Homo sapiens: one gene and its partner. The protein of the gene in region 1 interacts with the protein of each later gene in a pairwise test. Each region holds a gene or a part of one and is shown on either strand. Other genes may lie near its edges.

Evidence for each region.
Region 2: the proteins of KRT26 (region 1) and WASHC1 interact in a two-hybrid assay, tested with the Homo sapiens proteins (one large-scale study listed by BioGRID).

Annotation. Positions count from the first base shown.
Region 1 is NC_000017.11:40,769,106-40,773,597, reverse strand, and holds the start of KRT26 (keratin, type I cytoskeletal 26), read left to right. Parts: upstream 1-1,396; 5' UTR 1,397-1,484; coding exon 1,485-1,925; intron 1,926-2,361; coding exon 2,362-2,444; intron 2,445-3,188; coding exon 3,189-3,345; intron 3,346-3,475; coding exon 3,476-3,637; intron 3,638-3,718; coding exon 3,719-3,844; intron 3,845-4,492.
Region 2 is NC_000009.12:16,565-19,607, forward strand, and holds part of WASHC1 (WASH complex subunit 1), read right to left. Parts: exon of another isoform or gene 2,582-3,043; coding exon of another isoform or gene 2,462-2,581; intron 1,929-2,461; coding exon 1,817-1,928; intron 1,611-1,816; coding exon 1,464-1,610; intron 1,292-1,463; coding exon 1,155-1,291; intron 916-1,154; coding exon 780-915; intron 603-779; coding exon 401-602; intron 313-400; coding exon 154-312; intron 1-153. UniProt on the Homo sapiens protein: Acts as a component of the WASH core complex that functions as a nucleation-promoting factor (NPF) at the surface of endosomes, where it recruits and activates the Arp2/3 complex to induce actin polymerization, playing a key role in the fission of tubules that serve as transport intermediates during endosome sorting.

The DNA of each region.
Region 1 (4,492 bases):
GATTTAGAAAATCCATGCAGTCCACTAAATGTTCCATACGATTTAGTGACAATAATGTTGGATGTTTTCCAAAGGATTCACTATCCACAACATTGAAAAATATCATTCGGAAGAAAATTACTGTTTCAAAACTAAACCCATAATTAGTTAACCAATCAATTTGTATCATTATAGGTGATAGAGACCCGACCCTGTCTGACATGTCCACTTTATTATAATAATTTAAATAATTAACATTTAAAAATGTTTGTGCCTTTCAAACTGTCTTATCGTCATTCATGATTGGAACTGCTCAACATTCATTTGAGACTCTTTGATGCTATTATTTTCATTTGCCCAGTAGGGAAATGATCCAAGCCTGGATAACTTCCCAAGAGCATCAAGGCAAGAGAATAAAGAGTACTTCCCTGTGACAACTTATCTTCTCTCTAGGGTACTATAAGTACTGGTTTTCTAGGTAATGATGAAAACACCTCCCTCCTTATATATTTTACTCCTTGCTAATCAATATGATGCTCACTTCTCAAAATAATTCCTAATGTCTTAAATACATACATTTAAACTAAAAGACAGTAAACACTATTTAGGGGTAGGGAAGTGAACAATTTGGAGACTGTTAGTTGAATTGATGTCCTGCTCCTGGACCAAACCAAGAAATCTCAATCGAATTAATTCTCCACCATCATCACATATTCATGAATTATATTGAAATTAACAATAAGCAGGACTGCAGGATTTCTATTACTTCAGTTTTCAATTCAAGAAATGGTAGATTTCTTTTAAAATCTCCCACTACCAAAAGATCAATAGATGCTGAGATTTTCTGGTTTTGATAAGAAGGAAAACACACACCCAGACACCCAGGGCAGTGGCTCACACCTGTAATGCTGGCCACAGGAGGCTGAGCTGGGTGCTGAGGCTGAGGATCACTGGAGGCCAGGAGTTCGAGACCAGCCTGGGAAACATAGCGAGACCACATATCTTTAAAAAAAGGAAAAAAGAAAAAGAAACGAAAGGAAGAAAGGAAGCACTCAATGAAGTGGGAATACTAGAAATACTCTATGAGCGTTAACAGGACAAAAGTAGGAGACATTTCTCATTGGAATTATTAATTCTTTGTTATATGTGGCAGGGGGAGAATCTAGATTCTATTAATATTCCAGTGGCCAAAAAGATGCACATTTAGTCATATTTAATTTTGGCCTTTGAGGCTATGATTTAGTTTTACTTCACCTGGCACCATTTTTATATATAAAAAATATCCTTGGGGCACCTTTCCACCTACAGACTGGACGCTGTTAAAAATTACCCAATTGTGAAAAACAACAATTAGGATGCAAGTAAATTTTATTACAGACTGGCATAGTCAAGACTGAAATGACCCAGTGAATACTATAAAAGGCCAAGGGAGCTAACAAGTGTGGAAGGTGAACCCTGGCTTTGCTCCTCTTTCTGGGAAGGGGTTGCCCGGCTGTGCTGCCACCATGTCTTTTCGACTTTCTGGTGGATCCAGGAGGATCTGCTCGCGAACTGGGTCTGGTAGGCTGTCCGGTGGAGGAACAGGCTTCGTGGCTGGGAATGTGTGTGTTGGATCGGGAGCAAGAAGCAGCTTTTCTTGTACTCTTGAGGGCATCTCTTCTGGAGGAAGCTTCTGCAATAGCGGTGGAGGGTTGGGAAGTGGTGCCTGTGCTGGTTTTCTTGGCAATGAGCACAGCCTCCTCTCTGGGAATGAAAAGGTGACCATGCAGAATCTCAACGACCGCCTGGCATCCTACCTGGACCATGTGCATGCTCTAGAGGAGGCCAACGCAGACCTGGAGCAGAAGATCAAGGGCTGGTACGAGAAATGTGAGCCTGGCTCTTCCCGGGAACACGATCATGACTATAGCAGATACTTCTCAGTCATAGAAGATCTTAAAAGGCAGGTAAGAAATAGGGATTTGCATACTTTTACTACAGACTTTGTGTGTTGATAATTTAAAGAAGAGAAAATATAAAATGTGCCTAACAAATTTATGTGATGTAAGATTTGTTCACTCTGTATTTCCAGTGCTAAGCACAGTACCTGGCAATAAAATCTTGTAGAATTAAATAATGAAAAAGAAATCATTTCAAAACAGATATAGTCACTTCGTTTTTCATATATTTAGCTCATACCATTTGATCAAAAGTAGTAAAAGTATCTATGTGGCTCTTAAGCTCTGGATGCTTATTATCTGAAGAAAATCCAGATTTCTTTAACATAGAAAAAAGATACTAAAACAGATGTTTGACAGATTAAGAAGATATAAAATCACACTGAAGTCTGGAGCCTCCTTTGACTTTTGGTAATTAACATTTTTCACAATCTTCCCTATTTAGATTATTTCTGCGACCATCTGCAATGCCAGCATTGTTCTACAAAATGACAATGCCAGACTGACCGCTGATGACTTCAGGCTGAAGTAGGTGAAAACAAACTGATTAATTATATTAATAAAAGTTAAAATATTACAATTGGATTAAGGAATATATATTTTGCTTTGAAAACCAAAATGTTTTTCTAAAGCCAGACTAGATCAATAAAGAAATTGAATTAAATAAGCCGTTATAAAAAGAGCTATCATGGTTGGATAGAGTAGCTCATGCCTGTAATCCCAGCACCTTGGGAGGCTGAGGCAGGCAGATCACTTGAGGTCAGGAGTTTGAGACCAGCCTGGCCAATGTGGCAAGACCCCGTCTCTACTAAAAGTACACACACAAAAAAATAGTCAGGCATGGTGGCTCACTCCTGTAATCCCAGCTACTTGGGAGGCTGAGACATGAGAATCACTTGAACCCGGAAGGTGGAGGTTGCAGTGAGCTGAGATGGGGCCACTGCACTTCAGTCTGGGTGACAGAGTGAGACTGTCTCAAAAACAAACAACAAAAAAGAGCAATCACATATTTTTTAAAATCTAAAATCTAGCAATATTTTATTTAATTGTTAAGCACATTGGATGACAAAAATCAGCTCTGAAGAAATAACATCCCCAAAATACAATTCATGAATTGTTAGGTATCTCAAACCATTTTAGCAGTTTGCCATTGCAAGAAGCTTCAGAGGTATGTACAGAACATCATATCTTTCAGCATATGAAATACCTTAAAAAGTTGTGCTTTGCACCTGCCTACGATGACAACTCTCAGGTGCCTTACTAATCTTTCAGGTATGAAAATGAGCTGGCTCTGCACCACAGTGTTGAGGCCGACACCAGTGGTCTTCGCAGAGTGTTGGATGAACTGACCCTTTGTACAACCGACCTGGAGATACAGTGTGAGACCCTCAGTGAGGAATTGACCTACCTCAAAAAAAGTCATGAGGAGGTAAGGAAGCCTGCAGAGTGGCTTCATACAGTTTCTAATTTCCTTCTTGAAGTCCACTGTTCATTTCGTAGCAGGGCATGAACATCAATCAAAATCCTCCACTGAGGATGAATACCGATCCCTTTTCTAGGAAATGGAAGTCTTGCAATATACAGCTGGGGGGAACGTGAACGTGGAGATGAATGCAACCCCAGGAGTGGACCTAACTGTCCTGTTGAACAACATGAGGGCTGAGTATGAGGACTTGGCTGAGCAGAACCGCAAAGATGCTGAAGCCTGGTTCAACGAGAGGGTAGGTCTATGGCAAATTACAAAGGGCTTGCTCAGGAGACAATCAGGCCAGTCACTAACCCTTTCGACAATTACACTTCAGAGTGCAACGCTGCAACAACAGATTTCCGATCATGAGGGAGCAGCCACAGCAGCCAGAAATGAGCTGACCGAATTAAAACGCAATCTGCAAACCCTGGAAATAGAACTTCAGTCCCTCATGGCTGTGGTACGTAGGAATCGCCATTGAATTGAATATATGTGTGAATATGTATAAGTCAATACAGATATAAAAATACATATAACACCAAGTACGTATAACCATTTACATATGACTAAAAGTATAAAATATATTAAATATCAAGAATTCTGTCCCTAAACTCACCAATTCCAAAACTTGAAAAATGCCTTTTTACAATAGAGGAATTTTTTTAAATCTTGCAAATGTTGATTTTCAATTGAAAATATTCAGACCTTATACAAATAATTATTTCTACCTTGAGAATATTTAAAATATGACCATGCCGGCCAAGCACAGTGGCTCACACCTGTAATCCCAGCACTTTGGGAGGCCACGGCAGGTGGATAACTTGAGGTCAGAAATTCAAGACCAGCCAGGCCAACATGGTGAAACCCCATCTCTACTAAAAATATAAAAATTAGCTGGGTGTGGTGGCATGTACCTGTAATCCCACATACTCAGGAGGCTGAGGCAGGAGAATCACTTGAACACAGGAAGAGAGGCTGCAGTGAGCCAAGATCATGCCACTGCACTCAGCCTGGGTGACAGAGCAAGACACAGTCTCAAAAAAATAAATAAAATAATATAAGATGACCATGCCATTTCTCTTTTACACATTCAAGCTTCACTTTGCTT
Region 2 (3,043 bases), on another chromosome or scaffold:
GCCACTATTTTATGAACCAAGTAGAACAAGATATTTGAAATGGAAACTATTCAAAAAATTGAGAATTTCTGACCACTTAACAAACCCACAGAAAATCCACCCGAGTGCACTGAGCACGCCAGAAATCAGGTGGCCTCAAAGAGCTGCTCCCACCTGAAGGAGATGCGCTGCTGCTGCTGTCGTCCTGCCTGGCGCCTTGGCCTACAGGGGCCGCGGTTGAGGGTGGGAGTGGGGGTGCACTGGCCAGCACCTCAGGAGCTGGGGGTGGTGGTGGGGGCGGTGGGGGTGGTGTTAGTACCCCATCTTGTAGGTCTGAAACACAAAGTGTGGGGTGTCTAGGGAAGAAGGTGTGTGAGCAGGGAGGTCCCCGGCCCAGCTCCCATCCCAGAACCCAGCTCACCTACCTTGAGAGGCTCGGCTACCTCAGTGTGGAAGGTGGGCAGTTCTGGAATGGTGCCAGGGGCAGAGGGGGCAATGCCGGGGCCCAGGTCGGCACTGTACATGAGGTCGTTGGCAATGCCGGGCAGGTCAGGCAGGTAGGATGGAACATGGATCTCAGGCACCTGGCCCAGGTCTGGCACATAGAAGTAGTTCTCTGGGACCTGCAAGATTAGGCAGGGACATGTGAGAGGTGACAGGGACCTGCAGGGGCAGCCAACAAGACCTTGTGTGCACCTCCCATGGGTGGAATAAGGGGCCCAACAGCCTTGACTGGAGAGGAGCTCTGGCAAGGCCCTGGGCCACTGCACCTGTCTCCACCTCTGTCCCACCCCTCCCACCTGCTGTTCCAGCTGCTCTCTCTTGCTGATGGACAAGGGGGCATCAAACAGCTTCTCCTCTGTCTCTGCCCCCAGCATCACATGGGTCTTTGTTACAGCACCAGCCAGGGGGTCCAGGAAGACATACTTCTTGTACCTACGGAGGCGACATGGGGGTCAGGCAAGCTGACACCCGCTGTCCTGAGCCCATGTTCCTCTCCCACATCATCAGGGGCACAGTGTGCACTGTGGGGTCCCAGGCCTCCCGAGCCGAGCCACCCCAGTCACCCCCTGGCTCCTGGCCTATGTGCTGTACCTGTGTCTGATGCCCTGGGTCCCCACTAAGCCAGGCCGGGCCTCCCGCCCACACCCCTCGGCCCTGCCCTCTGGCCATACAGGTTCTCGGTGGTGTTGAAGAGCAGCAAGGAGCTGACAGAGCTGATGTTGCTGGGAAGACCCCCAAGTCCCTCTTCTGCATCGTCCTCGGGCTCCGGCTTGGTGCTCACGCACACAGGAAAGTCCTTCAGCTTCTCCTGAGAGGGCCAGGATGGCCAAGGGATGGTGAATATTTGGTGCTGGGCCTAATCAGCTGCCATCCCATCCCAGTCAGCCTCCTCTGGGGGACAGAACCCTATGGTGGCCCCGGCTCCTCCCCAGTATCCAGTCCTCCTGGTGTGTGACAGGCTATATGCGCGGCCAGCAGACCTGCAGGGCCCGCTCGTCCAGGGGGCGGTGCTTGCTCTGGATCCTGTGGCGGGGGCGTCTCTGCAGGCCAGGGTCCTGGGCGCCCGTGAAGATGGAGCCATATTCCTGCAGGCGCCCTGGAGCAGGGTACTTGGCACTGGAGAACACCTGTGGACACAGGGACAAGTCTGAGGGGGCCCCAAGAGGCTCAGAGGGCTAGGATTGCTTGGCAGGAGAGGGTGGAGTTGGAAGCCTGGGCGAGAAGAAAGCTCAAGGTACAGGTGGGCAGCAGGGCAGAGACTGGGCAGCCTCAGAGGCACGGGGAAATGGAGGGACTGCCCAGTAGCCTCAGGACACAGGGGTATGGGGACTACCTTGATGGCCTTCTTGCTGCCCTTGATCTTCTCAATCTTGGCCTGGGCCAAGGAGACCTTCTCTCCAATGGCCTGCACCTGGCTCCGGCTCTGCTCTACCTGCTGGGAGATCCTGCCATGGAGAAGATCACAGAGGCTGGGCTGCTCCCCACCCTCTGCACACCTCCTGCTTCTAACAGCAGAGCTGCCAGGCCAGGCCCTCAGGCAAGGGCTCTGAAGTCAGGGTCACCTACTTGCCAGGGCCGATCTTGGTGCCATCCAGGGGGCCTCTACAAGGATAATCTGACCTGCAGGGTCGAGGAGTTGACGGTGCTGAGTTCCCTGCACTCTCAGAAGGGACAGGCCCTATGCTGCCACCTGTACATGCTATCTGAAGGACAGCCTCCAGGGCACACAGAGGATGGTATTTACACATGCACACATGGCTACTGATGGGGCAAGCACTTCACAACCCCTCATGATCACGTGCAGCAGACAATGTGGCCTCTGCAGAGGGGGAACGGAGACCGGAGGCTGAGACTGGCAAGGCTGGACCTGAGTGTCGTCACCTAAATTCAGACGGGGAACTGCCCCTGCACATAGTGAACGGCTCACTGAGCAAACCCCGAGTCCCGACCACCGCCTCAGTGTGGTCTAGCTCCTCACCTGCTTCCATCCTCCCTGGTGCGGGGTGGGCCCAGTGATATCAGCTGCCTGCTGTTCCCCAGATGTGCCAAGTGCATTCTTGTGTGCTTGCATCTCATGGAACGCCATTTCCCCAGACATCCCTGTGGCTGGCTCCTGATGCCCGAGGCCCAAGTGTCTGATGCTTTAAGGCACATCACCCCACTCATGCTTTTCCATGTTCTTTGGCCGCAGCAAGGCCGCTCTCACTGCAAAGTTAACTCTGATGCGTGTGTAACACAACATCCTCCTCCCAGTCGCCCCTGTAGCTCCCCTACCTCCAAGAGCCCAGCCCTTGCCCACAGGGCCATACTCCACGTGCAGAGCAGCCTCAGCACTCACCGGGCACGAGCGAGCCTGTGTGGTGCGCAGGGATGAGAAGGCAGAGGCGCGACTGGGGTTCATGAGGAAGGGCAGGAGGAGGGTGTGGGATGGTGGAGGGGTTTGAGAAGGCAGAGGCGCGACTGGGGTTCATGAGGAAAGGGAGGGGGAGGATGTGGGATGGTGGAGGGGCTGCAGACTCTGGGCTAGGGAAAGCTGGGATGTCTCTAAAGGTTGGAATGA